Regions from separate parts of the Homo sapiens genome. Here region 2 is linked to region 1. The links come from fine-mapping of genetic effects on gene expression. A gene starts in region 1. The other region holds a variant in brackets. All regions are shown on one strand. Distances are between the middles of the regions.

Region 1 (15,994 bases):
TATAGATTTCCCTAGGTCTGATGGTATATACAACCATACATAGTAAAGATACTGCTTTAGTATATACTGCATGCTATACTTTTTATTTAAATATTATCTTGATATATTTGACCACAGAATGTTTATATTTTGAGGAAGAGGGGAAAATATTGGGAGGTGGTAAACCAGTGAAGAGTGCTTTCCAGGGCCAAATGTGGTGGCTCACACCTGTAATCCCAGCACTTTGGGAGGCTGAGGCAGGCAGATTGCTTGAGCTCAGGAGTTTGAGACCAGCCTGGGCAACATGGTGAAACCTCATCTCTACAAGAATTAGCCAGGCACGGGTGCTACACAGCTGTATTCCCAGCTACTTGGGAGGCTGAGGTGGGAGGATCCTTCTATGAGTTGTTGTCTGTCTTCATGTCAAAACATTCTATTGGGTTAGTTTTTTTTTTTTCTTTTGAGACGGAATCTTGCTCTGTCACCCAGGCAGGAGTGCAGTGGTGCGATCCCGGCTCACTGCAACCTCTGCCTCTCAAGTTCAAGCGATTCTCCTGTCTCAGTGTCCCGAATAGCTGGGATTACAGGCACCTGCCACCACACCCAGCTAATTTTTTGTATTTTAGTAGAGATGGGGTTTCGCCATGTTGGCCAGGCTGATCTCGAACTCCTGACCTCAAGCTATCCACCCACCTCAACCCCCCAAAGTGCTGGGATTACAGGTGTGAGCCACCGTGCCCTGGGTTATTTTCTGTAACTAACCCCCTTCTCTGCAAATTATATTGAAGATATTTTATCCTAGTCTGAATTTTAACTTGGGTTGTAGTGCCTTTGGTTTGATAGAAAAGTTTAGTGTTCATGGAACTGAACATTTTTTATTAATTGTGTTTTATATCATGCATAGGAAGGTCCTTCAACCCTAATATTTTTTAAAAGGTAGTAATTTCCAGTACCCTTATAGTTTTGTGCTTTGTGTATAAATTTACTATCGATCTAAAGTGTATCATTATATATGATGTGAAGTTTTTTTCCAAGTAGTTAGTGATATTGCAATACTCATTTCCCATAGAAACATGGGGATCTTTTTGGATTCAATGCTCTGTTCCATTCATTTGTCTGTTCCTTTGCTGTACACTTTCCATTACCATAGTTTTATTATTAGAGGGGCCCTAGGGTCCTTCTCACTACGTAATTTGGCATTGCCACTAAAATATATTGTAGACTGCTTTATAGCAGGCCCTCCCCACCCCAGGGCTGCACGGCAGGAGGCATTACCGCCTGAGCTCCGCCTCCTATCAGATCAGCAGTGGCATCAGATTCCCATAGGAGCGTGAACCCTGTTGTGAACTGCACATGGGAGAGATCTAGGTTGTACGCTCCTTATGAGAATCTAATTAATGCCTGATGATCTGGGGTGGAACACTTTCATCCTGAAACCATCCTTGCCCCTCCTCCCCCCATCGTGGAAAAATTGTCTTCCACGAAACTGCTCCTTGGTGCTAAAAAGGTTGGGGACCACTGCTTTGTAGTTTATAAAAACACTTTTATATGTTCCATTTTCTTTGATTCTTAGGCCAAACCAGAAAGACATTTAGGACAAAGAAGACATTTGCTATTCATATGAATACTCTAAGAATTCTGAGGCCCAAGGGCCGGGGCACTACGGTTCATGCTTGTAATCCCAGCACTTTGGGAGGCTGAGACAGGAGGATTGCTAGAGCTCAGGAGTTTGACACCAGCCTGGGCAATGTGGCAAAACCGTCTCTACACAAAATATAAAAATTAGCCAGGCATGCACTACAGGTGCACACCTGTCATCCCAGCTACTCAGGAGGCTGAGGTGGGAGGATTGCATGAGCCCAGGAGGTCGAGACTGCAGTGAGCTGTGATCATCCCACTGCACTTCAGCCTGAGTGACAGAGCAAGACCCTGTTTAAAAAAAAAAAAAAAAAAAATCTGAGGCCCAAGCTCAGTTGCCAGTATGGAGTGGGCAGTCAGTTCCAGCCTCCACCCTCCTTAATCCCAGACTATTGACAGGAATAGAAACTGAGGTCCACAGAAACCAATGACTACTCTTTTCTCTTGTAAATTATTAAATGAGTTGAATGTACATTTATCTGTAGTTCCTCCTGTTGCTGAGTGTAGTTCATGTTGAAGACTTAGGGGTGACAGATCCTTGGCAGAAAAAAGAAAATTAAAAAAAAAAACACTTACATTGTGGGATTTCGTGTTTGTAGGATTCCTGTCCTAACATCCTTACACAGTATGGTTTACTCTCTGTCTTATGTGCTAACATGCTAGAGACAATTTAACATGCTAGTTAAATTCATCTGAAAATTAGCAGAATAAACATGGCATAGGAGGAAGGGAACGAATACCATTTAAGGGCTTCTTCATGGCAGATGTTCATCTACGTACTTGGGTCACTGCCCTTGGTCTGTTCAGTGACCCTGTGAGATAGACAGTATTCCCATTGAAAGCAGGGAGAGATTGAAGAATTTGTCCAGGGTCATACAACTAGTATATGACAGAGTAACCCTGTATCCTGTTAGTCTATTTTCTGATTTCTACACATTCACATTATGATTTTGGGACATTGTGACTTTTTAGGCACACTTGAAATGAATTAAAATTAAAATATATTTTCTCTGTTCTTTTAAGGCTACGCAGATATAAAGTCCTAGGGAGTAGTAACTCCGACTCAGACCTTTTCTCCCGCCTGGCCCAAATTCTTCAAAATGGATCTCAGAAACCCCGGAGCACTACTCAGTGCAAGAGTCCAGGATCTCCTCACAATCCAAAAACACCACCCAAGAGTCCAGTTGTCCCTCGCAGGAGTCCCAGTGCCTCTCCTCGAAGCTCATCCTTGCCTCGCACGTCTAGTTCCTCACCATCTAGGGCTGGACGGCCCCACCATGACCAGAGGAGTTCGTCCCCACATCTGGGGAGAAGCAAGTCACCTCCCAGCCACTCAGGATCTTCCTCCTCCAGGAGGTCCTGCCAACAGGAGCATTGCAAACCCAGCAAGAATGGCCTGAAAGGATCCGGCAGCCTCCACCACCACTCAGCCAGCACTAAAACCCCCCAAGGGAAGAGTAAGCCAGCCAGTAAACTCAGCAGATAGGAGCCAGGCTGCATCTCTTTGAAAGGTGTGAGATCTTCCTCCTAAACCTGATGCATGTGTGTCCCTGTACTTTCTATGTAAAAAAATCAGTGTTGATCTTCTCTTGCAAAAGAAAGTAACATGATCAATTATTTATAAGAAGACATAATACATGATAAGGAATTACCTAAGGCAGGCAGCAAGTAGATTAGGAATCAATGTCTTTGTACAAGAAGGAAAAATAGAGCAAAAATCCAAGGGGGAGAAACTCATTAAAATGAGCTCTCATTTTTTAAGCTGCCTTTGAAACAAAAGAGTTGAGGATAGGAGATAGAATGGAATTTTAGGGGGGTTGCCTAATTTTTTTAAGCCTCAATTCAAAGATTATATAGCAAAAGTGAAACTTCTTGTTTGATATTTTCATTCAAAACTTTCCCACCCTGAAGAGTCATTGATCAGATATTAGATTATATAAGAAGTCTGTTGCCAGGGAGCCAGTATTCATGTATATTTGGCTTGTGTGTTTATTTCGTGTATTGAGAATGAACACCTTTACTTTGCCTCATTCCTAGTACCCTCCCTGGAGTTCAGATTTTTTTTTAAAATTTTGTATGTCTCGTCTGATTCAATCTCTCTGCTTTTATTTTATGGTCCTAGTTGTACTATCAAATCCAATTACTTTTTTTTAGGTCCCCCTGATTTTTTTTTTTTAGAGCAAGAGTTCTTAACATATTACATTTTTATTATGAAAAATAAGAAAGTTAGGTAAAGGAAAGAAAAGTCTAACTAGAGCTATTTTGCAGGCTTTAGTGTTTAGGGAGAGAAAGAAAGTGTGGGTTAATAGCCTTCAAGATAGAAGATGCCCTTTCATCTCTGTTAAGTGTCCTCCTTTAGAAACTTGAGTAGAAGGAAAACTGACCAGAGTAGACTGCTTCCTTAAGTCTTCTGGGTTCCAACTGTTTGTAATATCAGCATCCAAGATGATACGAGGGAAGCACAATGCTTTGGACTGTGATTTGAGATTTAGAAATAAATTAGATATATTATTGAGGCTTAGAATCCTCAAACTTTGTATTTTATACATTTAGCCAATAAGGAATTAATATCTGGGGAAATAAATTTAGGCAAATATTTCTTTTTTAATGTTTTATTACCTGCTTCTCCTGTGTTTTAGTTCAACATTTGGGCTTCTTGGCCTGATTTTCATACAATCTCAATTTACGAAGCTGTAAAGAGGAAGATATTTGTTCTAATCTCACTCTTCTAATAGGAATCAGGCAAATGAAAGTCTACCAGACTTTTAAAATGGGCTGTTTTTATACTCTCTAGGTGTTTTGTGTTGTAAAGACCTTATTAAGGTCAGGTAAATTGGTCTGCTTGCTGTTGAAATTTGCCTTCTAGCAAACATATGTGCTTTCTGTTTGACCTTGTGTTTGCTGCCAAACCTAATACAGTTGAATTGGGAAACAAAAAAAAAAGAAAGGAATACATTTCCTCCCCAAGTGAACATCTTCTAATGCTGCATCAAAGCTGCCCTGAAGCTGCACTGAACTTCTCTTGTTCTCTTTATCTGTGTTGAGCTTTTTAAAAAAACAAACTCAAAACACTATTGAGGCATATAACGTCTCTTATAAGAAATGTAGCATAGTGTGGAATCTTAATTTCTCTCCAGTTTCAAACACTCCAGAGGAATGCAATAGATAAGACATACTTGCTGTTTATCTAAAGCAACTGTAATATTGGAAGATCAGTCCTTCTGTATTATATTGTATAATAGTTGCTATAACACTACTTGCATGTCTTCATGGTAAATTATATAAATATTTATAAATATATAGAGAGACATATCCTTATATAGAGTCATTCTTTGTCATTCTCCATTTGTAATTTCGAGATCACAGATGGCGAAATTCCTTTTCTATTGTGTGCCTCATGTACACTTGGGCCTTGCCTATCTTCATTTTCTGAAACTATGTTCTTGGCATGTGACACCTCAGAGTCTTCTTGCCTTCCCTGTGTACAATGCAAGGGTGGGCAGTATTTAACAAGCCAAGATAGGTTATTTAATTTTCATTTCAAAAAGATTTTAATAGGGAAAAAATTACAGGGACATGCTTGTAATACTGGTTCAGAGATTTGTCATGTTAATCACATAGTTCTCTCCTTATAGTTAGAGTGGATAAACTGGGATGATGATGAGTCTGACAGATTTTTAAAACATTTCTTAAAAATTGCCATTCTACTTTCCTCTTTTCATCTCACTTTTTTTGCAGGGGGTCGGGGGAATAATGAAGAAATTGTCATATTTCTGTTGCATTAGCTAAATTGTGCTAAAAGTAGCTAGCTTTAAATCCTGACCCCTTTAGTCGGAAATATGCTAGTAGTAATCATTGGAAAAGCTGATGAAGCTACAACTGTGGTACGTGTGTGTGATTTTATTTCTTATTGGCATTTCTCTGCTGGCAGTTGGAACTGACAGTGATGGGAATGTGGCAACTGAATGTTTTCTCTCTTTCTTGGTTCCTTCCATTTTTATCTCAACTTTTCTAGTGTGTTGTCCCCTTTTCTAAATGGCATTGACAAACTCATCAAGATCCAGAGATAAACAGTCCATCGTTTAAGAATATTTTATTTTGCATGTAGAGGAAAGAATTAACCAAAGACGTTTCTGCTCTGATACTTTCTAAAGAAAACAGACTAATTATATATAAGTGGTATCAATAGGTCTGCTTATAAGTATTGTCCTATGTAGAGATTTACTTTTTGGTTTTTACAAGCATAGTTTGCGCTTTTAGATGTCTCTCAGGTGAAAAATAGAAGTTGGCAGCCCTGAGCAAGCACCTGTGACACAGGGATTTTTATTTTAGTTTTAAAGTATGATACAGAGAATGAGGTTTTTGGTTTGATTTGGTTTGGTTGTGTTTTTTAGTTCTTTATTTTTTATTTGGGGGTTCTCTTAGTGATGGCATATTTCAGGTTTCAGTGACATAGATCAAGTAATTTTAAACCAATTTGGTTATTCTATCTAAGATGAGGGACATGGCTATTAAGGTCAAGCCAAACTATACTAAAAGTAGTATAGGGCAGCAGTTAAAATTATCTTTTGAAAATCAAGTATTACCTGGTTTCTTCTGTCACAACAGAATAGCTGGTTACCTAGTCAGTCACAGTTGCCCTTGCCTTCCCTTGTTAGTCCCTGGAGGTACTTGAGTGGAACAGAAGGTAGAATTAGCAACAGCTCAATCACTTTAGGTAGCATTTCTCCTGAATTCTGCTGCCAAATCCTCAGGGTCTATGGATTGGTTGAAATAGTAAAATCACACATAGTGATTTCTTGCACAGCGTAGAGGCGTTTAATTTTAGTGTATAGTGAACAAAGAAGGAAAACTGGGTCATATAAAATTTAACCTTAAAACACAGATTATAAATATCTTTGAATGTTAAGCCCTAGGCAGACAGACACTCTCATTCTTAACTCTGGTATGCAAGCTGGCCTTGCTGACAGTGGCATAGTTACATTAACTGTTTTTTAAGTTGCATGTTGTGATGTGAATGTTTTTTGTAAAAGTTGCCAAGTTAATCGAGTCCTAAATAAGTAGCCAAATGGTAACTGAGACCCACTGTAGACATTACTCGCTTTATATTATTTGCTTTCAAATACTAAAACCTCAGCTGCTAATTCAGCGCTCTAGGTGTACAGTGTCTCCTTCCCTTGGCTCCTAGCAATGTAGGGAACTTGAGGTTCTTCAGTATCTTCAGAGATTCCTTCCAGGCCACATATTTTTATGCTAATACTTCTATAGTTGCATTCAATCTACAAGGAGAAAGTGTACATTGGTGCATGTTTTATAAACCCAGACACAGATAGCTAAAACCATAATTAGTTTTTCTATACCCAGAGCTTTGAATTAAAAACAGATGCTTTTTTTTTCCCCAAGAGCAGACAGTTCTACATTCCTAACATTAGGAATTGGTGATACGAGAAGCAGGATCCAGAATTCAGAATGATTTAGTGAGACTCGGTGAAAAAAATGCATTTTCCCCTGGCTGTTTGAAAATTTACTTATTTGCAGATAAGTCTAGATTTAGTCTTGGAGATCAAAGTCTTTTATATTTTAAAAACTTATTCTTTATATTGATCAAACATGGCATATGTTAGAGAACCACTTCTTCTGTCATGTTTATGTATTTTGGAATTAAGTTGTTTGCATTCACTTTCAAAATCTGCCCATTTCTGTTTATGTGCACTTACCACAGATGTGTCGGGACTTTGCCTCAGGGGAGAGGTACTTTAGCACCTGTGTCACTGAGGAGATGGAGTGGTTGACAAGTACTGTTGCGCTGTGTAACTTGGGGTTTGGCCCTGTGGACAATATATTAGCAGAATGATACCACACAAAAGTATTACAGGATTAAGGCATGTAACTTCTATGGTAGTCCTTATGTATCAGCGTATACCCAAGTTCAGAAACCACAGGTGCATTTTTAGACCTTTACTTAGAGAACTAAAGGCAGTTCCAACCATCAGCCCATATGGCGGGATTAATGCATGAAAACCCTCAGAGGGTGTTGGGACATCCTACTTCCCTGTCCTCACCCAGTGGAACTCTGGTGTGTGCCTTGAGGATAAGGAAGTAGAGTGGAAACTCATCCTATCATTGAGTATTCTCAATATTTTGGCCTTCCCTCTGGAATTATGAGAAATTTAACAAAGTCTCAGGAACCTTTAGAATCCATTGTCCAACACTGCTAGAAAAACTGTAGGAGGTACATGGAGAATTCCTATAGTTCTTAGGTAAGTGCAAGACATGGCACAGGGATCCCTATCCACATAAAGGGGAATCTGGATGCTGCACACCTCAATTCTGAGAAATCCCTGACTGAACTTGGAATTATGACAGTAAAGTTTTCGTCCTTTAGTTTTCTAGAGCAGCTCACAGAAATTTTAAAAAGTAAAACAAGGCCAGGCGCAGTGGCTCATGCCTGTAATCCCAGCTCTTTGGGAGGCTGAGGCGGGCAGATCACGAGGTGAGGAGATCGAGACCATCCTGGCTAACAGGGTGAAACCCCGTCTCTACTGAAAATACAAAAAATTAGCTGGGCATGGTGGCGGGCGCCTGTAGTCCCAGATGCTCAGGAGGCTGAGGCAGGAGAATCGCTTGAACCTGGGAGGCAGAAGATTACAGTAAGCCAAGATCGCCCCACTGCACTCCAGCCTGGGCGACAGAGTGAGACTCCGTCTCAAAAAAAAAAAAAAAAAAAAGTAAAACAAAAATAAAGTCTATGCCCATTAAGACGTCTTCTAATTCAGTTGTGATTGTCTGCTCCTACTTAAAAAAATATTTAAGCTTGATGTTTAATTATTCCCTTTCAGCAAATTTGGATCAGAAAATTAAAGTATGTGACAAGATCAGGTCACCTTGAATTTCCACACAATCTCAAGACACTGAATAGCAAAAAAGTAACATTACACAGTAATGATTAGGATATTTCCTTAGACTTTGCTGGATCTTTGGTCTTAAGGTAACATGTAAAAGTAGTGAAGCCTTTCCTTTCATGGCCCTGTGCAATGTAACGGTTTTCTGCCTCCTCTTCAGCTGGAAGCGTTAGTGGTAGTATGGGCACAGAATATATGTACACTGGCGATGCTGACCATGCCTCCCAGGTACCCTGGCTCTGGGTTCCTTGACCTAGGGAACAAGATTGGATGAGGCAGATCTTTGAGCCCATGTGACTATAGAATTTGCTGATGATATAATTTTACAATAACAATGGATAGGAATTTTACCTCTCTTTTTATTAGTTTAATATTATTTAATATTATGTACATAAGTGTTCACTCGCCTAATTAAAAACATTGAGTAAACCAAGTTTTTATATAGACTACCCTTGCCATATGATGCTCTTTTTCTCTAATAATATGCAGTTTAAATCCTGAGGAATCAATGCCCAGCATTTCACCACATCTGAACTCTGTGTGGGCATTCTTCACTCGCCTACAAGGGGTAAACAAGGCTACCAGAACTTGAATTTGACTTATAGGGAGCTACCCAGGAAGGGGAAAGCCCTTGGGACTTTTTCCAAAACAATCTTCTATTTGAACTGTTCATCAGCCAAAGTAGTCCACTGAGGTGACAAAGCTTTCAGAAATACAAAGATGGGAAGATAAAGGTAACACTGGCCCACTTGGGGCTTTGACATTGGATTGGGTGGACTGAATAAACACAGCCTAGGTGGCCTGGGCTTGAGCCTCACTTACTTCTCCTTGATACATAGTTCCTGGTCTACCTTCTGACCCTTTTTCTAAAATAGCCAGTGTCTATTTCACTAGGCCATTTACTTACAAGTTCCCAGCTTTTAGGGAAAAAAGAGGGAGGGGGGAGCATCTAGTTTTGAATTAGATATACATCTTAGAAGTAATGAGCTATTGGCAGCTGTTAAATCAGATTCAGCCACAAACCAGAATTCTTTCTTGTTGAACAAGACCAATGAGTTAGATGACTTTAATAATTCCACTTTTCTCTCCCTCTCTTCTCCTCTTCCTGAAATCAGAGAGATGAGAAACTACTCTTTGAAATACCTCCAGAGGCGTTTTATTGTGTTCCTTTCCCCTCCAAGCAGCTCCCTTTATACAATTTTGCTCAGGCAACCAAGGACAGAGTATCGGCAGAAACATGGAGTGCTTTTGTATAGGCCACCTGTACATAAAAGTGTAATTATTTATTTAATTTTCCCATTTGTATCATATTAAAGCTTTGTACAGTGTTTTAAGTTCTGTTTTAAAATTATTTTGTATTTTATTTTTATAACCTAGTAATAAAATATTCATTCCGCATGCAAAATCTAGTTCTGTTTGTGTGATGGTCTGGATTTCAAAAGTGGAAAATATTTTTCTAATTTAATAAAGTTATTGAATACACCAGATGTTACAAGATCAACGGGGAGCAGATAGTGTTACTGTAAATGCAGTACCACATCTAGAAGTTCCCTAGAAAAAGCAGCCCAGGACTGAATAGAAGCTAGGTGTTAAGTGTCCCTGCAGTTAGGAGATGTTTTCCTGTAATAAAATTAAAATATTAAAAGCTCCTTTTTAGTCCATTATTCTGTCTGGCTGGAGGTACTTTTTCCTTCTCCATAGGAAATACCCCTTCTGCCACTAGAGAGATTCCTGCACCCCCACCCTCATCCTTCCGCCCGTAACCTTCCTTTGAACCAGAGCAACTCTCAGGAGGCATTCACAAGGGCACTGCCTCACCCCTCCTGGTTTGGTTTGACATGGAATGTTCGTGCCATCTGTTTTTCTCCGCTTGGATTCCCTTGCTTGATTTGTCACTGAGCAGCAACCTTCAAAATCCTCTCTCAGGTTTTTTTGTTTTGTTTTGTTTTTGAGATGGAGTCTCGCTCTGTCACCCAGGCTGGAGTGCAGTGGCGTGATCTTGGATCACTGCAACCTCCGCCTCCCAGGTTCAAGCGATTCTCCTGCCTCAGCCTCCCCAGTAGCTAGGACTACAGGCGCGTGCCACCACGCCCAGTTAATTTTTGTATTTTTATTAGAGACACGGTTTCACCATGTTGGCCAGGATGGTCTCCATCTCTCGACCTCGTGATCCGCCCACCTCTGCCTCCCACTGCATTCCAGCCCCGGGGGTGACAGAGCGAGACTCCATCTCAAAATAAAATTAAATAAAGGAGATTAAGAAATTACTCAGGCCGGGCGTGGTGGCCCACGCCTATAATCCCAGCACTTTGGATCTGCTGCCCTCTCCCGGCCAAAACATTAGCTGGGCTATAGCCCTAGGGAGGCTGAGTCGGGAGGATTGCTTGAGCCCAGGAGGCCAAGGCTGCAGTGAGCCGTGCTCACGCCACTGCACTCCAGCCTGGGCAACAGAGCAAGACCCTGTCTCAAAAAAAACAAAACAAAAACAAAAAACACCAAACCCAAAAATACAAACCTCAAGCTCCCAGAAGCTAATCATGATATGCTTACTGACATCTAAACTGCAAAGTAGTTGAAATATTAACCTCATGTAAACCCACTTAAGTAAATAAAGCTACATACAAGCAATTCTGTGTGCAGGGTGGCCCGAGGCACTTTAAGGGTTGTGGCTTGGGGATTATTAAGAACCTCCTAGAAATAATTCTTTCCTAAATGGTCAGTTGATGGTGAGCGCTGAAAAGCCGATGGGTACTGCTCGGCCAAGGGATTGAAAAATCGGCCTTTGAGAAGAACAAAGTCAAAATGAAAGATTAGATTATAATTTCTCTGGGGTGGTGCCAGTTGGATCTAGGAAACTTAAACTCGTGAAAGAATGTGCTTAGAGCAGAAGATAGAAGCTGGTGGCTGTCTCTGCTCCCCTCTACCTCTCTCCCGGGTCCTGGGTCTCCCTAGAGGGGCGTCCGACCCGCGGCAGCCCCACTCCCAGCTCGAATCCCTCCCTTCAGGTCGCTCCAGGGCGGGCAGCCAAGGTGGGCCTCCCCAGGCGCTGTGATCCACATTTCACCTCCTAACAACCGGCCTCTCGGCCGGGGTTGAGGACTCAGCGAGGCCTTGACTCCGTGGGTCTGGGCAACAGCCGGCTCCGCCCCGCCCCGCCAGCCGGGTCCCTCCCCATCCCGCGACCCAACGGTCGTTCCCCGCCGCCGGCCCCGCCCCTCCCTGGCCGCCCGCGGCGCGCCGGCGCCTGCGCAGTCGCCCCAGAGCGCCCCGACCGGGATGGCGGCCGTTTTGGAGTCGCTGCTGCGAGAAGAGGTGTCGGTCGCAGCCGTCGTGCGGTGGATCGCGCGCAGCACCCAGGGTTCGGAGGTAACAGCGGTGACACGCCCCCAGGTCTGACTCGAAGCCGGTTCCCGCAGTGGAGTCCAGCCCTCCAGTCCCCTTCCTCTAGGGCGCCTGGCTGCCAGCCGGGCCGAGTGCACTCCAACTGGGCGCCGCTGCCCGGGCCGCCCACCCGAGGCGCGCCCTACGGCCCCGGCTGCTCACGGCCCGCGGGCCGGCGGCTGACCCTCTCGCCCCTCCACCTGTGCTTCTGCCCTAGGATAACGCTGGGGAGGCGGCCGCGCTGAGCTCACTCCGGGCCCTGCGGAAAGAATTCGTACCGTTCCTGTTGAACTTCCTGAGGGAGCAGAGCAGCCGCGTCCTCCCGCAGGGGCCCCCGACCCCCGCCAAGACCCCGGGCGCCTCGGCAGCCTTGCCAGGGAGGCCGGGAGGCCCGCCGCGGGGTAGCCGCGGGGCGCGCAGCCAGCTTTTCCCTCCGACCGAGGCCCAGAGCACCGCTGCCGAGGCCCCTCTGGCCCGCCGCGGGGGCAGGAGGCGGGGCCCGGGGCCGGCCCGCGAGCGTGGAGGCCGCGGCCTGGAGGAGGGGGTCAGCGGGGAGAGCCTGCCCGGAGCCGGGGGCCGGAGGCTTAGGGGCTCTGGCAGCCCCAGCCGCCCCAGCCTCACGCTGTCTGATCCGCCAAACCTCAGCAACCTGGAGGAGTTCCCTCCCGTAGGCTCGGTTCCCCCCGGCCCTACAGGGTGAGACTCAGCTCTCATGCAGGAGATGGGTACCACGAAGGCTCTGGGGAGTCAGTCATTCGAGCTCGGCGCTCCGCAGTGGAGCGCCAGGATGGGTAGAAGGCTGGGGGTGATGGTGAGGGTTTTTGTGGGGTTTTTTGGCAAGAGGTCTAGCTGTTGCGGTGGTGGAGGGGAGATGTTTGAAGATAGGAATTTGAGAAAAACCTGTGGCTACTCTCAGCAGGACGAAGCCTTCTCGCAGGATCAACCCAACTCCGGTGAGCGAAGAGCGGTCACTCTCCAAGCCCAAGACCTGCTTCACCTCACCCCCAATCAGCTGTGTCCCCAGTTCCCAACCCTCAGCCCTGGACACTAGCCCTTGGGGCCTTGGCCTTCCCCCAGGGTGCAGAAGTCTGCAAGAGGAGCGAGAGATGCTCAGGAAGGAGCGGTATGGCCTGGCCGCTCCTGGGGATATCGGTTTCCTCGCTGTGGGGGATCTTCAGGGGTTTTCCCTGAAATTGATTTCCCTCTTGGGGACTCTGGGTTTGTCTCCTGGGCTGTTGGTATCTTCTCTGGAGTGACCTGAGTGTGGCCGTAGCAGGGAAGCCAAGCTGACTGCTCATGAAATTTCTTTATTCCATAGCTCTAAGCAGCTGCAGCAGTCACCTACCCCCACCTGTCCCACCCCAGAATTGGGGTCGCCCCTCCCCAGCCGGACAGGAAGCCTCACAGATGAACCTGCAGACCCTGCCAGAGTGTCTTCCCGCCAGCGCCTGGAGCTTGTAGCCCTTGTTTACTCCTCGTGCATTGCTGGTGAGTGAGAGCGGAGGGAGCGGGAGTGGAGACACTTGTAGAACTTATGGGTAAGAGAATTGGTAAGGCACTTGGAACTGAGCCTTGGCTCCAAATGGTGCCCATACCATGGGCTTTCTTTTTGTATCTATCTAGAGAACCTGGTACCAAACCTCTTCTTGGAGCTTTTCTTCGTCTTTCAGCTCCTCACTGCCCGGAGGATGGTGACTGCCAAGGACAGCGACCCTGAACTAAGTCCAGCTGTCCTAGGTCAGTGAGCAAGCCTCCTTTTGAGACATGGGGTCTAGAAACGGGACCGTTCTTAACTGACAGCTTGGTACTGTCCTTCTAGATTCCCTGGAAAGTCCACTGTTCCAAAGCATCCACGATTGTGTCTTCTTTGCAGTGCAGGTTTTGGAGTGTCACTTTCAGTGAGTTTCCCTGGCTGAGGCATTTGGGCCTCATTCTCATCATCTGCTTAGCTCTCTGGCTGCTTGGGATATATGCTGGTGCTTAACACAGGGGCAGTGGTCCTGGACCTTCTCCTACCTATAATCTTTCTTTAATTTTGTGTTAAGGCTATGAATGTAGTCCCTGAAAGAATTGAGATCGGGCCAGGTGTGGTGGCTCACGCCTGCATTCCCACCACTTTGAGAGGCCGAGGCAGGACAGTGACTTAGGCCCAGGAGTTTTAGACCAGCCTGGGCAACATGACAAAATCCCATCTCCACCAAAAAAAAAAAAAAAAAAAGGCCGGGTGTGGGGGAGTGCGCCTATAATCCCAGCTACTTAGGAGGCTGAGGTGGAAGGATCTCCTGAGCCTGGGAGGTCCAGGCTGTAGTGAGATCACGCCACTGCAGCCTGGGTGACGCCCAGCCCAGCCTGGGTGACAGAGACCCCCATCTCAAAAAAAAAGAAAAAGAAATGGACCCCTGTGGTCTTGGCAGCTGAGCTTTGGTTTCTGGGTAATGTTCCTGTCCTGCTGTCTTGGTCCTTGCTCTGTAAAGTCTCATATCCTCCCCTTGACTTTCATTATCTTTGATCCTTGGCCCATGACCTTGCAGTACATATCTGGGCTTGCATACCTGCGCCATGCCTTAGAGATCCTCTGTGGTGTGCAGGTGCTTGCTTCCTACTTGCAGTCTGTGTTCTGGTCTCAGTCATAGGTGCTCTTGTCCCTGCAGGGTTCTTTCCAACCTGGACAAAGGGACCTTGAAGCTGCTGGCTGAGAATGAGCGGCTGCTGTGCTTCTCACCAGCTCTGCAAGGCCGCCTTCGAGCTGCCTATGAGGGCAGTGTTGCCAAGGTAGTAACCCCAGCTTAGTTGCCCACTAGCCTGGACCTAACCCTTCCTAGCTTTCATAAATTCAGGCAACCCTGCTGACGACACTTCAGTGTAATGTGAGCTAACTCTGGGCAAGAATAAGAGGGAGAAGTTTTCTCAGCATGACCCTGCAGTTCCTAACGTTCCTGCTGTATTTTAGGTCTCTCTGGTGATGCCTCCCTCTACTCAAGCTGTCTCCTTTCAGCCAGAGACTGACAATCGTGCCAACTTCTCCAGTGACCGAGCCTTTCATACTTTTAAGAAACAGAGGTGATAAGAAAAGGGACTTTTTGGGGAGGGAATGAGATGACATTTTTCTGGAATAGGCAGCTGTTTGGTTTCATAGAAATTAGGAGTTTGGCACCAACAGGTGGTGGGTTAGTCCCCCCAGGTCCTTCCTGCCGGCCATCATAGGGACCACCTGGCTTCATTCTCATGTGCATCTGTGAACCCCGGCGCTTAGCAAGCCATCTCACAGGTGTATGGTTTTAGTCTCAGGGTTCTCAAGCAAGAGTGTGCCAGGATGAACTGTCACTGCCCACAGAAGTACATGAAGCCTGTAATGTGCTGCTGGTCTGTAGCACTACTGTCATCATATAGAGAACTCTGGAGAAATTTAAAAATGGGGCTGCTGGCCGGGTGTGGTGGCTCACGCCTGTAATCCTAGCACTTCAGGAGGCCGAGGGGCGGATCACCTGAGGTCAGGAGTTTGAGACCAGCCGGGCCAACATGGTGAAACTCCGTCTCTACTAAAAATACAAAAATTAGCCAGGCGTGGTGGTGGGCACTTGTAATCCCAGCTACTCTGGAGGCTGAGGCAGGAGAATCGCTTGAACCCAGGCGGGGCGGAGGTTGCAGTGAGCTGAGATCGCGTCATTGCAATCCAGCCTGAGTGACAAGAGCAAGACTCCATCTCCAAAAAAAAAAAAGGTGGTGGGTGGGCTACGGATAGTTCTTCCAGGGGCAGGAAGGCACTGGTGGGAGTGAGTGCCTCGGCTGATCAGGCGTTCTTATGCGTCAGGGATGTGTTTTATGAGGTGCTGCGAGAGTGGGAAGATCACCATGAGGAGCCTGGCTGGGATTTTGAGAAGGGCTTGGGCAGCAGAATCAGGTGGGTGCTCAGACCTTGTCTTTCTTGTTCCTGGCAATGAGTAGCTCAGTGCTTGCTCGGTGGCAGGAGGGAGGAGGAGGGAAGGTTTTCCCCGCTCCTACCAGCCATTAGCTGTTTTCTACTATCCTCCGAAATCTCTTTAGTTATTGATAACTCTGCCTCTATTCGAAAGGGATGTGTCTCTCCAGCTCCT
Region 2 (15,994 bases), 410 kb before region 1:
CAGATAAAGTACTCTTGCCAAAAAACAAACAGATGTAAATCTGATGAAACCTCTAAATCTAACTACCAATTATAGAACCTAAAGGGGACAGGGACAGAGGAACATGTTAAATGATACCCCAGGGATGTAAACAGCAAAAATCCAGAAAACAGGGAACTCCACAGGACCAAAGATTCAGTTTCCAAAACAAATAAATTTTAAGGGTACAAAAAAGAGGGGGGAGGTAAGGGATGCAATCTGTACAGTAAAAGAGATGAAAGAGACAAGTCGGTTAAATAGAATGTAAGAGCCTTGATTGAATTCCGATTTGAACCAACCAAATGAAAATATACATATCTATTTATCTATCTATCTGCCTATCTATCTATGTAACATATTGGGATAACCGAACATTAAATGGGTAGTTCGATATTACGGAACTACTGTTAGTCTTCCAGGTATGATATGGTATCATGGTTAAGTTTTTAAAAAACAGTCCTTATATTTTACTGATAAATATTGACATATTTACAGATGAAAGACATCATGGTGCAGGGAGGGGAGATAGGGATAAAGAAGGAACAAGATTGATCATGAGTTGATAATTGTTGAGACTGGCTGATGGATACATGGGAGTTCATTATAATATTATCTCTTTTGTATATTTAAAATTTTCCCATTATAAAAAAAACTTTAAAAATAACAATAAGAACTTACAGTTGTGTTTTTTAAGCTTTTATTGCTCAAAATGTGCTTATATTAAACTATGTTATTGTTTTAAAGCAGGAATCTAGATTTTTCTAATGTTTGAGATTAGACCTTTCTAGGGTCTACTCTTTAAATTGGCAAAGTAGGCACAATAATCTTAAACTACAGATACTCATACTTTAGTGGACATCAGAATCACCTGGAGAGATTGTTAAACTAGATTGCTAGGTCCTATCTCCAAAGTTTCTGATTCAGTAGATTTCAGATGGGACCTGAGAATTTCCATTTCTAACAAGTTCCCAGGTGATACTGATGCCACTAGCCCAGGACCCACATTGAAAATTGATCTAAAGGTCTAGTTGCTACTAGACTGTGGGGAACCTATAGATATTCAATAAATACAATGAGTAGGTAAAATATTAGATAATAAGTGTCTTCTCCCACGGATTTTGAGTTTCAAATCTGACTTATCTACAGTTTACTGTACTTAAAAGGACAGAACTTTCCCATGAATGAATGAAGGGACCAGGTTCCCTATTTAATACTCAGTAGGTTGTTTAAAGTTATACATATAAGAAAACAGAAAACAGATCAGTCCTTGCCTGAGAATGAGGATGTAAGGAAAACAGATTGCAAAGGATACAAGAAAACTTTTGAGGGAAATGTATCATATTGTTTGTAGGCGATGACTTCAAGGATGTATACATATGTCAAAACTCACCAAATTGTATACTTTAAATATACAGGGTTTATTATGTTATTATGTATAAATTATACCTTGATACCATTGTAAGAAATGTTAAACATACAAAAAGTATGTGATTTTACATTTTTACTAAGGATTCAACTAAGCAGCCAGAAATGTTTCAAGGAATATAAGCTATGGTTTTTTTTTCTTCATAAAACTACAGAAGTTGTATGTATATCTTATTAAGAAAATAATACACTGGGGTTCTGAGGCACTCCAGACTGTAGTGACTGTGAAGACAGGGAATAATTTATTCTAGGTGCACATGAACCTTCAAGTCTCTTTAAAATGATCCACCTTCTTCTAATATGAAAGACCTTAAGGGTTCATCCCCAGCTATCTCTCCTTCTACTTCTGCTGTAAGTTTTTTCTTCCTTCTACACAGAACATTTTAAAGATGGATGGCATAGCAGAGTGTCTTCTTTTGTGCAGATGTACAAGTTTCTCCATTTACAAACCAAGGGTAAAACTACCCCCAACAAAGGATTGTTTTGTGGATTAAGTAAAAAATTCTAAGTGCCTAGCATCTCCTTAGAGGGAGCTCAGTAAATAGTTTCTTCCTACTCAACCTGTCTCTGTAGGGGGGATAAAAAAGATAATGAAAATAACTACATATGTTTTCTGAAAAATTATTTAGTGTTTCAAATTAAGTCTTAATATTAGAAGATTAAATAGTTAACAACTGTCATCAAATCATAAAGTTGCAGAAATTGACAGGTGTGTGTGTGTGTGTGTGTGTTTAAGAAACTAATTTCTGAGCACAGCTTATCGCCTTAAGAGTTTAATGAAACTGCTCTATTTTGGTAATGATTATTATTTTCTACTCTGGCAGGTGCTAATAAATTAAATGCCCTAAATTGAATCAGAATAAGAAAAGGCAAACTGGTACTGCATATGCTAACAATGCTTATTCCTCTAACAAAAAAGTGCTTCTGATGCACTGAAAATTCTGTGTCCTGAAGCTTTCAAATAATGACACAATTGTCCTACAATTAGAGACAGCAATCAAAGACATGGATACATAATACATGTTTTCTGACTTATTCTATTACCTTTGGGTATACTGGGGAATTTGCCCCTATTATGAAAAGATTCTGGGCAAAGTTGGAAGAAAACACAAGAATGATTTCCTGGGGCTAAAAAAAGGGAGTCTATGGCCACTCCTCTTCTCCTCTGCCTAGTTTTTAATCTAATATTAGAATTATTCCAAGTGCCCATTTTCAGAATATACTAAATACAGTGTATTCAATTTATTTTTATTTTTATTTATTTATTTTTTGAGATAGGGTCTCGCTTTGTTACTCAGGCTAGAGTGCACTGGCACAATCAGAGCTCACTATAACCTTGAACTCCTGGGCTCAAGCGATCCTTCCATCTCAGCCTCCCAAGTAGCTAGGACTACAGATGCACGCCACCATGCCCAGCTAACTTTTATTTTTTTGTTGAGATGCGGTCTCACTATGTTGCCCTGGCTGGTCTCAAACTACTGGCCTCAAGCGATCCTCCAGCCTCAGCCCCAATTTTTTCACTTTTTTTGTTTATTTTGAGACAGGGTCTGGCTCTGTTGCCCAGGCTGGAGTGCAGTGGTGCAATCTCAGCTCACTGCAACCTCTACCTCCTGGGCTCAAGTGGATTCTCCTGCCTCAGCCTCCTGAGTAGCTGGGACTACAGGCACATGCCACTGTGCCCAGCCAATTTTTGTATTTTTTTGTAAAGACAGGGTTTCACTGTTTTGCCCAGGCTGGTCTCGAACTCCTATGCTTAGGTGATCTGCCTGCCTTGGCCTCCCAAAGTGCTGGGATTACAGGCGTGAGCCACCATGCCCGGCCCCCAGTTTTTTTTTAAACATGGTTTCATTACCAATTGACTAAAAAATTCCAAACCAGAATTCATTGTGGCTACAGCTTAATCATTTACATAGTAAATATAAATTACTAACTTACCTGGACGATTACTTCTATGTTATGTGTCCCACTACTGTAGTTTCTAGGATTCCACTTCAGTACGAAAATGGGACCAGACACATGAACAGCCTGGCCTAAATGAACTCCATCAATCTTAACTGTGACAGAAGTAATGGAGGATAAGGAAAAGGCCAAGACTCTAAAATGAGAGCATATATAAAACACATGGTTTGAGGTTTGTCATTGTTTTTGCAAAGGAGAATAACCTTATTGTAACTTGCAGATATACACGTATAGGCAGAACCATCATATTGTACAACAGCAGGAGCCACTATTGATATGATCTGGTTTCTTTCCGAATGGTGGCTTCTGGAGTTGGACAATTAGCAAAACTGAACTGGTAAGAAATTCGGAACTATTCTTTTACTTTTTAGAAAGAAAAATCAATTTTCTTTTGACAAATCTAGGTAAGGTAGATTCAAAGTTCTTTCTGAAGAAACTCCAGAAGTACTGATTTTTCTCTTAGGAAAATAATATAGGGTGGAAATCTCATTTTGTTAATCTAATGTCAAGCCTACCATCTACTCATTTGGTACCAGGGTGTCTGTCCCAAAGAAACAGGGTTATAACCAGAACTAGGCTACCAAGCCCTTTCAGAGAGTATGACACCTAAACCTGATATCCAGCTCCCACCAAAAAACCTGACTGACACATGTGTGTTCCATTTCATTAGTGATGAAAACAATAAATGTAAACATCTTGGTACCATTTTTTACAAGTTAATTAGTAAATACTTTTTAAAGCATAATATCCAATAATAATAAGAGTATTGTGAATTTGGCATTCATATTGCTTGGTAATATGATAAATTAGCATCTGTTGTTGAAAGTAATTGGATACCTGATACACTGCTGGTGGGAATGTAAAATGGTGCAGCCACCATGGAAAACAGTATGGCAGCTCCTTAAAAAATTAAACAGATAATTACCATATGATCCAGCAATTCCACTTCTGGATATATATCTAAAAGAAGTGACAGCAGGGACTTGAACCGTTATCTGTACACTCATATTCATAGAAGCGTTATTCAATATAGCCAAAAGTTAGAAGCAACCCAAGTGTCCATTGAACACATAAACAAAATGTGGTATGTGTGTATGTGTGTATACATATGTGTGTATATACACACACACACACACACACACACACACAATGTACAATGGAACATTATTCAGCCTTTAAAAGGAAGGAAATTCTGACATATGCCACAACATGTATAAACCTTGAAGACATCATGTTAAATGAAAATAAGCCAGTCACAAAAGTATAAATATTGAATGGTTCCACTTATATGAGTTAGCTAGAGTAGTCAAATTCATAGAGACAGAAAGTAGATTGGTGGTTGCCAGGGGCTGTGGGAGAGGGAAGAACAGGAAGTTATTGTTTAATGGGTAAAAGTTTCAGTTTTAGAAAATGATAAATGTTCTGGAAATGGATAATGGTGATGGTTGCAAAACAATGTAAACTTGAAGCAAACTTAATGCTACTGAACTGTACACTTGAAAATGGTTAAAATGGTACATTTTATGCCATGTGTACTTTGTTTAATCATGCTTACCATGATTAAAAATAGTGATTTTAGCTCCAAAAAAAAAGGGATTGAGCAATTTTTATCAACAGTCATAAAAGAATTCAAATTCTTTCACCTAGAATCCCACTTCTAGAACTCTTTCTTAAAGAAATTATTCAAGTGAAGGAAGAATATATATGTACCAGATATTCATCCACAAATAAGAAAAACCTTAAAAGTTCACCAATGAGATATGAAAATGGTTAGAAAAACTGTGGTACATTCTTTGTGCTGAAAGAAAACAAATCAGGAATTAGAATAGACTGTGCCTTATGATTATAATTATATAAAAACATCTTAAGAGAGAATGCCTGAGAAGAAATACTCAGAAGTGCTAATAATAGTTCTATTAGAAGTGGAGAAAAACATACTTAAAATCCCATTACCCTATTTTCCAAAGGTTGTTCTATTGTATTACTTTTCAAAATAAATTGTAAAAGTATATTTTAAAAAGTGCTCTTACATTTGAAACAAGTTATATATCTCTTTGCAAAAAGAATGTTAATGTCCCATTTGGATTCTATTAATCTATATAATCAAATTCATGGCCAGGCATGGTGGTTCAAGCCTGTAATCCCAGCACTTGGGGAGGCGTAGGAGGGCGGATCCCTTGAGGTCAGGAGTTCGAGACCAGCCTGGCCAACGCGGTGAAACCCTCTCTCTACTAAAAATACAAAAATTAGCCAGGCGTGGTGGCACACATCTGTAATCTCAGCTACTCCAGAGGCTGAGGCATGAGAAAAGCTTGAACTCGGGAGGCAGTGGTTGCAGTGAGCCAAGATCAGGCCACTGCACTCCAGCCCGGGCAACAAAGCAAGACTCTGTCGAAAATCAAAACAAAACAAAACAAAACAAATTCATTTGCCAACTGAATTTTCAATTCCATAAGGATTATATATATAGCTTTTGCTTTCTTAGAAGGCTACATAACAAATGAAAAAAAATTTGATATATAATGCAAATTTTAAAAAGTAGACTATAAAGGAATATGTACATTATGCTTATAGCAATGTAAAAGCGTCCAAATAAAAAGGCTGGAATAAAATAAAACAAAAATAATAATGGTAGAATTATAGATTTCTGAATGGTTTTTAAAATTTCATCAGCTTAAAAAAATGATATGCTTTTTAACTTAATGGAAACAAAACAGTAAGCAATCTATCTTTATATAATGTTTAGGTTGTTGAGAAAACTAAAATGGGGCATCTCATAGCTTTCACATGGGAATGCAATCACAATGACTTATTCTCCTTCATTATCAAACTGAAAGTAAATTCTAAAAAATTGCTACATACCTGATGTGTGTTGAGTGAAGAAGTCTTTCTAGTGGTTCATGTTCACCACAACTATAAAGGAGTGATTTAGGATTGGTGATAAGAACCACAGGCCACTTCCCAAAGATCAAATCTGCAAAGCTAAAGAGGTCGTGATCAAAAGCAAAAATCCGGTACCTAAAGACCAGATAATGATAAGGTAATTTAGTCACTTCACATTGTAAGAGGTCATGAAGGTAATATACAGAACAAATATAAAAATACATAACTAGGACTTTTTTACATGATTAATTTGAATACAGATTAAGTAATATTTTCTTTCTTTCTTCCCTTACCCCATCACTTTATCCTTCACATTTGTCACATAACTGCCTCTGACTGGGCAATGGATTCAACTGTGCTCTTGAACAACACCTGGTACACGGCATGTACTCTTTAATTTTTAAATAAATACTTGTTGAAGTAACTCATCTTATCCCTGTACTTTAAGACAATTTTGAACCTAAAATATTTATTATAACCCTAATACTTGACATTCTTCATCCCATCAACAATGCTACATAAAATATTAAAATGGTTGATATGAACAAAATTAGAAATCTTTCATGCTTCTTTTAAACCTTTCTTTCTTTTTTTTTTTTTTTTTTCTTATTTTTGAGATGGAGTCTCACTCCGTCACCCAGGCTGGAGTGCAGTGGCGCAGTCTTGGCTCACTGCAACCTCTGCCTCAGCCTCCCAAGTAGCTGGGATTACAGGTGCCCGCCACCACACCTGGCTATTTTTAGCAGAGATAGGGTTTCACCATGTTGGCCAGGCTGGTCTCGAACTCCTGACCGCAGGTGATCCCCCTCACCTTGGCTTCCCAAAGTGCTGGGATTATAGGCGTAAGCCACCATGCCTAGCATTAAACATTTATTTCTATAATTTCAAAGAAATTAAAGTTGTTTTCATTTTCCAAATGCAATAACAAAAGGTATAAAATATTCATTAAAGAATAACCAAAGTTTTATATTTTCTAACTTTTAGAACTAAAAAAAGAAATGATTCACTATGGCAGAAACAATAGTGCTCACGAAATTCTCTACACATTCCCCTGAATTTCCCAGTCTCCTGGTATCAGGTTGGGACCATGTGACTAGTTTTGGCCAATGGGCTGTGAAGAGAAGTGACACATATCATGCCTGTGGTCCAAAGTACTTAAGAGTGGGTGTGAGTTCTCCTTGCTCTCTTCCCTGCCCTGGAATCGACATGTCGAAATAGGAATTTTAAGATGGAGGAAGTCTGAATTACTGACTCATCCCATGGATAAGAGTTGTTCTGACTCATATTGAATTTATACAAATGAAAAACATTTGTGTTAAGCCACTGATATTTCTGGATTTATCTGCATCTACAACAAGGCCTAGCCTAATATTTCCAATATACTGTTTTTAAAAATTATTCTATTGTAACTAACACAATTTAAGTGTTTATAAGGGCAGGTAAAGTTTAGGTCCTTTTATCTGGAGTACGCTCCAAATAAAACCCCAGGGTTGGACACAGGAAAACTGGTGGAGAGAGAAAGGAAATGCCTTCATAATTAACATCACAACTTGTAACTAGAGCACTTAGAAGAAATAAAGAAGCTGGTCAAGGCTTAGTAAGACTATCTCACAAAAGGCAATCATAGCCCAGCCCACAGCCTCACAGCCATGAACAGACAACTCTTAGCTCAAAGTAATTATAGTTGCCAAATAATTACACGTTTCAAGCATAACTCACACAGTTTTTAAAAAGTCAACCAAAATGAGAAAGTACCTTCCAAGATGTAAAGTTCCTTTTTAATTAATGGAAGTAGTTAAAAAT[A/C]AAAAGATAACATATTCAGCTCAACAAACCTTTGCTGAGTACCTATTATCTGAGAGCACAGGGTTTGTGTAAATTAAATAACTGTAATAGTTAAACAATAAGATGATACTCCTCAAAACTTGATAAACTATTTCACTTAAATACTTCTTTTTAAAAAAGAAAAAACCATATATTTAACTACACTACATGCTTTTGATAAACATATTTTCTCTTAGAGAGACTTTAACCTTAAAAAAGCCAACTATCATCTATTTGAAGAAGTTAAATCACTACCATCTTGTAACAATAACCAGTATGGTAGATACAAAATTCAGGAGGAAAAACATGACACTTCTAGTCCTAGTATTTCTCAAATTGTCATGCATAGACCACCCAGAGGGCTTTTAAAAAAGGCAGTTTGGGCCAGGCGCCATGGCTCACGCCTGTAATCCTAGTACTTTGGGAGGCCGAGGCGGGTGGATCACCTGAGGTCAAGAGTTCAAGACCAGCCTGGCAAACATGGTGAAACCCCATCTCTACTAAAATACAAAAATTAGCTGAGCATGATGGTGGGTGCCTGTAATCTCAGCTACTCTGGGCAGCTGAACGTGACTCTGTCTCAAAAAAAAAAAAAAATGTAATTTGTTGGACCCTAATCCAGACCAACACAATCAAAATCTCTAGAGGCAGCGCCTGAAAATTTTTATTTTTCATAAGCTCCTCCATAATTCTTGTGCACACTAGAGTTTGAGTCCAATTCCTAATGGACATATCTTGAAAATCCAATGTAACATAGTGATAGTAAACATCCCTGCTATGACAAGGTTTCCGCAAAATGACAAAGATTTCAGAGACATATATTACTTTAAAAAAACAGAAATATCACAAGTTTTTCTTTAACTGTGATCACCCATGATATCAGTAAGAAAACTATCATTGCTTTGGCAAAACTTATGTGTATAAGTTTTCTTCTATGGGGAGGTTCCCTTACCTCCTATTATCCTTCCAGTCTCCCACCTCAAGTTCCAAAGTGCCCTGGAAGTGACGAGTGTGCAAAACAGGCATCAGTCCACCAAGTGTATGGAGATGTCCACACAAATAAGCTATAGCCGAACTAACCAATGAAAAATAAATGAAATAAATGAACAAAGATAACGCGTGAGGCCAAACTAATAAAAATGTCTTGCCAGAAAAGCAGAATAGGTAACAGCAAAATAAAAAAACTAAAAACAAATTAATTCTGATTTTGGAAGCTTGTCTCACCTCATTATTGACCGGATTCCTGGTGATGGAGAAAGAATAGTGGATGTTGTAAAGTGTCCAAACCAAATTGTATGGTTGCTCCGACTGCTTTCCTTGGCCAGTAATAAGAGCTCCTCCATCTTTTTCTGAGATGGGAGAAAAATGGAAGGATCTTAAATTAGGGCTCAGGCTAAAATCTAATGTCAACAGATTAGAAAACTCCTCTGAAGATTTATAATAATTATTATATGTGTCTAGGCCTTAAACCTTACTAGTTAATGACCTCTATGGACCTCTGTAAGTTTCAAATTGTTTTCACATACATTATATTTCATTTGATACTAAAAATAACTCTGCAATAGGTAGGGTAGGTATTATCCTCTTTTAATAGATAAGGAAACTGCGAAATGAAGTCATCACTAATCTTTACAGCTTTGTATAACACTTTACGATTAATAAAGAGGATACAGAAACTAAACTTCTAAAATAATATCATGGAAAGACTTCTACCTAAATGTTTATAACAGCTCTGATAATAGCCAAAAACTAGAAACCATCAACAAGTTGTAATACATCCACACGATGGAACAGCACTCAGCAACAGAAAGGAAAGAACTACTGATACACACAATCATACGGATGGATCTCAGAAACATTATACTGAGCAAAAGAAGCCAGACCCAAGAGTACATACTGTATGATTTCATTTATACAAAATTTTAGAACAAACAAAATGAATCTATACTGATAGAAAACCAATCAGTAATTCCCTAGGAAGTGAAGACAGACTGTACAAGGATGACAAGACTTTAGGATGATGGAAATGTTCTATGTCTTAACTGTGGTGACAGTTATACCAATATATACATTTGTCAAAACTCTTCAAACATTTAAAATGAGGGTATTTTATAGTACTCAAATCATACCTCAAAAGTTGATTTCAAAAAATAACTGGTACCTATGTAAATATGCATTAATATTATATGTAAGGTGCTTACAGCAATACATTTCTGGGATCTACCCTCAGGGTTTTTAATTTGATAAGTCTGGGGCAAGGCAAGGGAATCTGTATTTTGTAACACTCCAGTTGGTTTTCATGTACATGATCCTTGAATTCTACCTTTAAAAAACACTATACTAAGGAATGGGATTTAATATAAGTTCATCAACCCTGACTAAAGACACTTGATAGATAAGAAACAAAATAGAACCTAATTAAATAAAATGCCTAAAGTAACACAATGCATTTGACAATATTCTGTTCACTTGATTTCACATTCTTTCGAACTCTCGTATAACTCTGAACCTCTTACTTCTAATTTAGCAAATTCTGCTCTTTATTATATTTATTTCTATACTGGTCTTATACCTCACCACTAGATTAAATACTCTAAGAGTCTAAGAACTTGATCTTATCACTTTTGTATTCTTTCATATGAGCACATATGTCTTACTTAGGGGCATATGCTTATTAAATAATGAGTTGGCATTTACTGTACCAAGAAATAATAAGAGGTTCTCAAATGAGACTTTCCACACAGTTTAAATCCAGCAATCACCTAGCCTTGTCAAAATACTTGAAAATAAACTTATTGATTTCAATAGTCATCCTTCTCTTCTTTAAAAAAATACAGACCAGCTGGGCACAGTGGCTCATGCCTGTAATCCCAGCACTTTGGGAGGCTGAGGCAGGTGGATCACTTGAGATCAGGAGTTCGAGACCACCCTGGCCAACATGGCGAAACCCCCTTTCTACTAAAAATGCAAAAATTAGCTGGGCATGGTGGCACGTGCCTGTAATCTTAGCTATTTGGGAGGCTGAGGCACAAGAATTGCTTGAGCCTGGGATGTGGAGGTTGCAGTGAGCTGAAATCACACCACTGCACTCCAGCCTGGCCGACAGAGCAAAACTCCGTCTCAAAAAATAAACACTAGTTAGAACTGGCAATTGTGGGAACTTAGGAATATACCACACAAAGCTGTATGTCCTGTAACTTGCAAAGTGCATCCTGTACTCAGTACCTATTTAATAAATGTTTACTCCATAAAGTGTGAGGTACTTCTTTCTCAGATTTTGGGACAAGAAAAAGGATAGCAAAAATAGTGCTGAAATAGCCAGTAACTTCTAGCCATACCTGTAACCAAGTTAAATTTCTCCAAAGCATTCCTAGATAACAACTAGTTTACTTTTGATAACTTTAAGTGATCCACACGTATCCATGAAAAAATAAGTAAGCTACAAAGGGAAGTAAGATTTTTACTGCACCTTATCTAAAATTCCAAAGAAATTATAGGGTCTCTTAGGCCCTGGATTTACAGTGGCATCTACACAGATGAACGAATAGTTGCCAAAGGGAGTACTGTGGACATAATGGAAAGAGCCATCTCTACGTACAGCAGAATATTTCCTAAAAAATAGAAGACAGGAGGGTGTTAGTGTAATAAAAAGACAATGCTTTAAAATTCCTTCCCTAATACGCTAGATTTTACCTTCCTTTGAAAACGAGATTTGCTGATCTGACAGAAATATACTAAACTAGATCCACAATGGATAAACTGATGAAATTTCAAAGTTTTTCTCCCATTGTCCCCAAAGACTCATGCAAACTCATTCAATAACCAAATACAAGTTCACCAAGTTCAGAAGTAAGACGGCTCTTTTAGGGAGTCCATTAAATGTTCAAAAAGAAATCAAAATCCAGTGGAACAGTATTTATCAATCATTTGCAGATTTAGTGAGGGCATACTAAGTACCTAGAATTCTTGGTGTAGTGAGATAAAAAAGCTGTCTACTTCTTGAAACAGGACTACAGAGGCTTAATTCACAAGAAAGACTTGCAAAGATGAAGTCTTCAAGCAAGGAGAAAAAATATTAGTCTAGGTCTGGGTTGTTAAATCTTTTTCAGTTCCTAAAGATATATTGATAACATACACAGGGTCTATATCCACTAATGAAAGTTTACCACCTTAAGCGTCAACAGTGTTCAGGTGTCCATAAAACTGCAGAGTGAAGACCAGGAAGAAAGGATGAGTAACACAGTACAGGGCAGGCACTCATTAAGTATGTGTTGAATAAATAAGAAGGAAAGTATAGATTTTATTGGAGGGCATACCTATATTATTCAAATGTCAGAACATTATAAGAAAAGTTGGTATTATCATTTATCTAAGTGTCTTACATGATTTTTACCTAACAGCATATATTTAAAAATACAAATAAACTCCTGAAATTTAATATGCTAGTGGGCCACAACAACCATCAAATATAATGTAACCCGAGTAAATATATGATATAGACATTACAACTAATACTCAGAAATTAGTCAAACCCAATTTAAACAATGTCAATTAGTTCTACTGCCTTTCTTCTTGGTATTTTTTAAATTTCCATTTCAGGGCCAGGCGCGGTGGCTCCCGCCTGTAATCCCAGCACTTTGGAAGGCCGAGGTAGGCGGATCACGAGGTCAGGAGATCGAGACCATCCTGGCTAACATGGTGAAACCCCATCTCTACTAAAAATACAAAAAAATTAGCCGGGCGTGCTGGCGGGCGCCTGTAGTCCCAGCTACTCCAGAGGCTGAGGCAGGACAATGGCTTGAACCCGGGAGGCGGAGCTTGCAGTGAGTGGAGATCGTGCCACTGCACTCCAGCCTAGATGACAGAATGAGACTCTGTCTCAAAAAAAAAAAAAAAAAAATTCTATTTCAGGGTTTTATTCTAAATTAAAATTTTTACTTATATTTTTTCTTGCTTATTTTATGTTCAGTTATTCCTCAGAATCTTTTTTTTTTTTTTTTGAGACGGAGTCTCACTCTGTCGCCCAGGCTGGAGTGCAGTGACGCGATCTTGGCTCACTGCAAGCTCTGCCTCCTCTCTGGGACATTTTTAAGATCAAGATTTAACTTTAATTTTTTTTCTTCAGATTGGTATTTCTGTAATATTTATATTTTTAGTAAAATGCCATTTATTAAATTCAGATAAAGTTTAGGTGGCTAAAAACAAAAATACAAAGGTAAGAAACTTTAAAGTGACTATTCACTTTACTTTCCCAATAACCACTCAGCCCCAAGTCCTGTTAATTACTTTTGAACATGTCTCCTAACTCCCCACAGTCACCATGAAAGATACAAACAGTTAACAGGAAGTGAAAGATTTTCATCTCTGTCCTCTTCCTTTCTCACATTAACAAAAGAGAACAACCTCCTCTTCCAATGTATGGTGACTCTAATCATACAAACTCAGTTAACCAGTGCTTTTTGACCTATCATCCTCAAATTGATGTCACCATCTCCATATCCAAGAACTTAGTTCAGATGGGTATGACTTTTCATTATCATGACTAGACTATTGCAGGACCCTCCTATTTAGTCCACATAACTCCAATATCTCTTTTTTCCTTTTTATCCCATCTTTTTCCTTTTTTATTGTGGGATTGCCATTTATAAAACACTATTTTAATTATGTTACTTGCCTCCTTAAGAACCTATGCTGAATTATGAACTATTACCCATCACATCTCAACTTCTATGCTTGTTACTTAAGACCTCCATAAATTAGCCCTAGGCTGCCTATCCAGTGTCATACTAGTCCTCAGTATGAATGTTAATTCTGGTGACACCAGTTTTCTTACTGCCCCTGCAAAGTTCAGTTTTTGGTTTCCCAGTCTGTAGCTTTTAAAGATCTCTTCATACCTATCTTTTTGCCTAAAATATCCTCCTTGGCATGTCTTACTTCTTCAAATGCTACTCATCTTTTAAGATTGGACACACTTTTTGCTTCTTTTATAAAGTCTTCTCTATGTCCACCCCCATGCTTTTCTAATTTCTCATAGTGATTATCATGTGTACCAAATAATCTAGCATTTCCTCGGCCATTTCTTCATGTTATTTTCTAATTGTTTCCTAAATAATTCTGATGTCCCTTAACTACACTATCAGTTCCTTGAAGGCAAAAGCCAAATTTTTAACATTAACTCATGTATCTCTCACACTATCCAACTAGGGATGGATTCTCAATAAATATTTGCTACATGATTGATTGACAATGCAGAACAAAGCTACTGAATACCCTGAGGCTGAAAAGTGCACTGCAACCAAAAGAGGAATCTAAACATAATGAAACTAGACAATTGGTTTCTAATTCAGAGATCCCTTGCCTTTTCACATTTGTGACAAATAAAGATTATTTTAATATTTGTATGACACAGGATGAAAAGATAAAGCAGCCAGGTGACTAACTGGGCTCTCCAGCCACCACAGAGGCCAGGAGAATCAGTATCTCAGGATTCTGAAAACCCAGTGACCTCAGTAGTGTGGCTGACAAGCTCTGATATAAATGACTTTTCCTATGTATCAATGACTTAAACAATTTTTTAAGCCCGTGTGGAATATTAAAAGTACCATTAGCCAAAACAAAGCATTAAACTGCATGCATATTTCAGAGATATTGTGGTTCCTGACACCACAATAAAGCAAATATTGCAAAAAAGCGAGTCACATGAATTTTTTGGTTTCCCAGTGTGTATGAAAGTTATGTTTACGGCTGGGCGTAGTGGCTTATGCCTGTAATCTCAGCACTTTTGGAGGCCAAGGCAGGCAGATCACTTGAGGTCAGGAGTTTGAGACCAGCCTGGCCAACATGGCAAAACTCTGTCTCTACTAAAAATACAAAAATTATCCAGGCATGGTGGCACATGCCTGTAGTCCCAGCTACTCAGGAGGCTGAGCCAGGAGACTCGCTTGAACCAGGGAGGTGGAGGTTGCAGTGAGCCAAGATGGTGCCACTGCACTCCAGCCTGGGCAACAGAGCAAGATCCTGTCTCAAAAGAAAAAAAAAAAGTTATGTTTACACCATACTATAGTCTATTTAGTGTGCAATTGCATCATGTCTAGAAAAACAATGCACATACCTTAATTTATAAATACTTCTACTGACTGGGCATGGTGGCTCACGCCTGTTACCCTAGCACTTTGGGAGGCCGAGGTGAGTGGATCACTTGAGCCCAGGAGTTCAAGACTAGCCTGGGCAACATTTAGAAACCCTGTCTCTATAAAAAACACAGTAATTAGCCAGGCATGGTGGCTCACGCCTGTGGTCCCAGCTACCCGAGAGGCTGAGGTGGGAGGATCACTTTGAGCCTGGAAGGTGGAGATTGCAGTGAGCTGAGATCGCGCCATTGCACTCCAGCCTGGGTGACAGAGAGACCCTGTCTCAAAAAAAAAACCAAAAAAACAAAAAAAAACCTTACTGCTAAAAATGCTAATGATCATCTGAGCCTTCAGCGAGTCAAAATCTTTTTACTGGTGGAGGGTCTTGTTTTGACGTTGGTGGCTGCTGACTGATCAGGGTGGTGGTTGGGGTGGCTGTGGTAATTTCTTAAAATAAGGTAACCATGAAGTTTGCTACATCAATTGACTTTTCCTTTCACAAGAATTTCTTGGCCGGGCGCGGTGGCTCACCCCTGTAATCCCAGCACTTTGGGAGGCCGAGGTGGGCAGATCACGAGGTCAGGAGTTCAAGACCAGCCTGGCCAATATGGTGAAACCCTGTCTCTACTAAAATATAAAAATTAGCGGGTCATGGTGGCAGGCGCCTGTAGTCCCAGCTACTTAGGAGGCTGAGGCAGGAGAATTGCTTGAACCCGGGAGGCGGAGGTTGCAGTGAGCCAAGATCGCACCACTGCACC

What was found. PIP is the estimated chance that this variant, and not a neighbour inherited with it, causes the effect.
Region 2: its variant is the best candidate, but not a certain one, in a credible set for the expression of CDAN1 in whole blood (TOPMed, PIP 0.68).

The regions. Positions count from the first base shown.
Region 1 is chr15:42,732,904-42,748,897 of GRCh38, reverse strand. It overlaps CDAN1 (codanin 1), which reads left to right and starts at 11,770. Exons shown (of 28, transcript NM_138477.4): 1 at 11,770-11,885; 2 at 12,118-12,596; 3 at 12,820-13,023; 4 at 13,219-13,388; 5 at 13,524-13,637; 6 at 13,720-13,798; 7 at 14,552-14,672; 8 at 14,851-14,960; 9 at 15,712-15,801. The coding sequence starts at 11,796. TTBK2 (tau tubulin kinase 2) reads left to right here. Exons shown (of 15, transcript NM_173500.4): 15 at 2,641-10,168. The coding sequence ends at 3,103. TTBK2-AS1 (TTBK2 antisense RNA 1) reads right to left here and starts at 9,780. Exons shown (of 3, transcript NR_186317.1): 1 at 9,663-9,780; 2 at 7,335-7,445; 3 at 5,696-6,896. RefSeq lists silencers at 11,584-11,833, 12,024-12,163, 12,254-12,543.
Region 2 is chr15:43,142,216-43,158,209 of GRCh38, reverse strand. TMEM62 (transmembrane protein 62) reads right to left here. Exons shown (of 14, transcript NM_024956.4): 5 at 11,576-11,717; 6 at 9,331-9,455; 7 at 9,059-9,181; 8 at 6,265-6,420; 9 at 3,379-3,538. Among named protein-coding and RNA genes, the nearest start is that of TMEM62, 17 kb to the right of the region's middle. The variant A/C (reference allele first, on the strand shown) is at 8,089.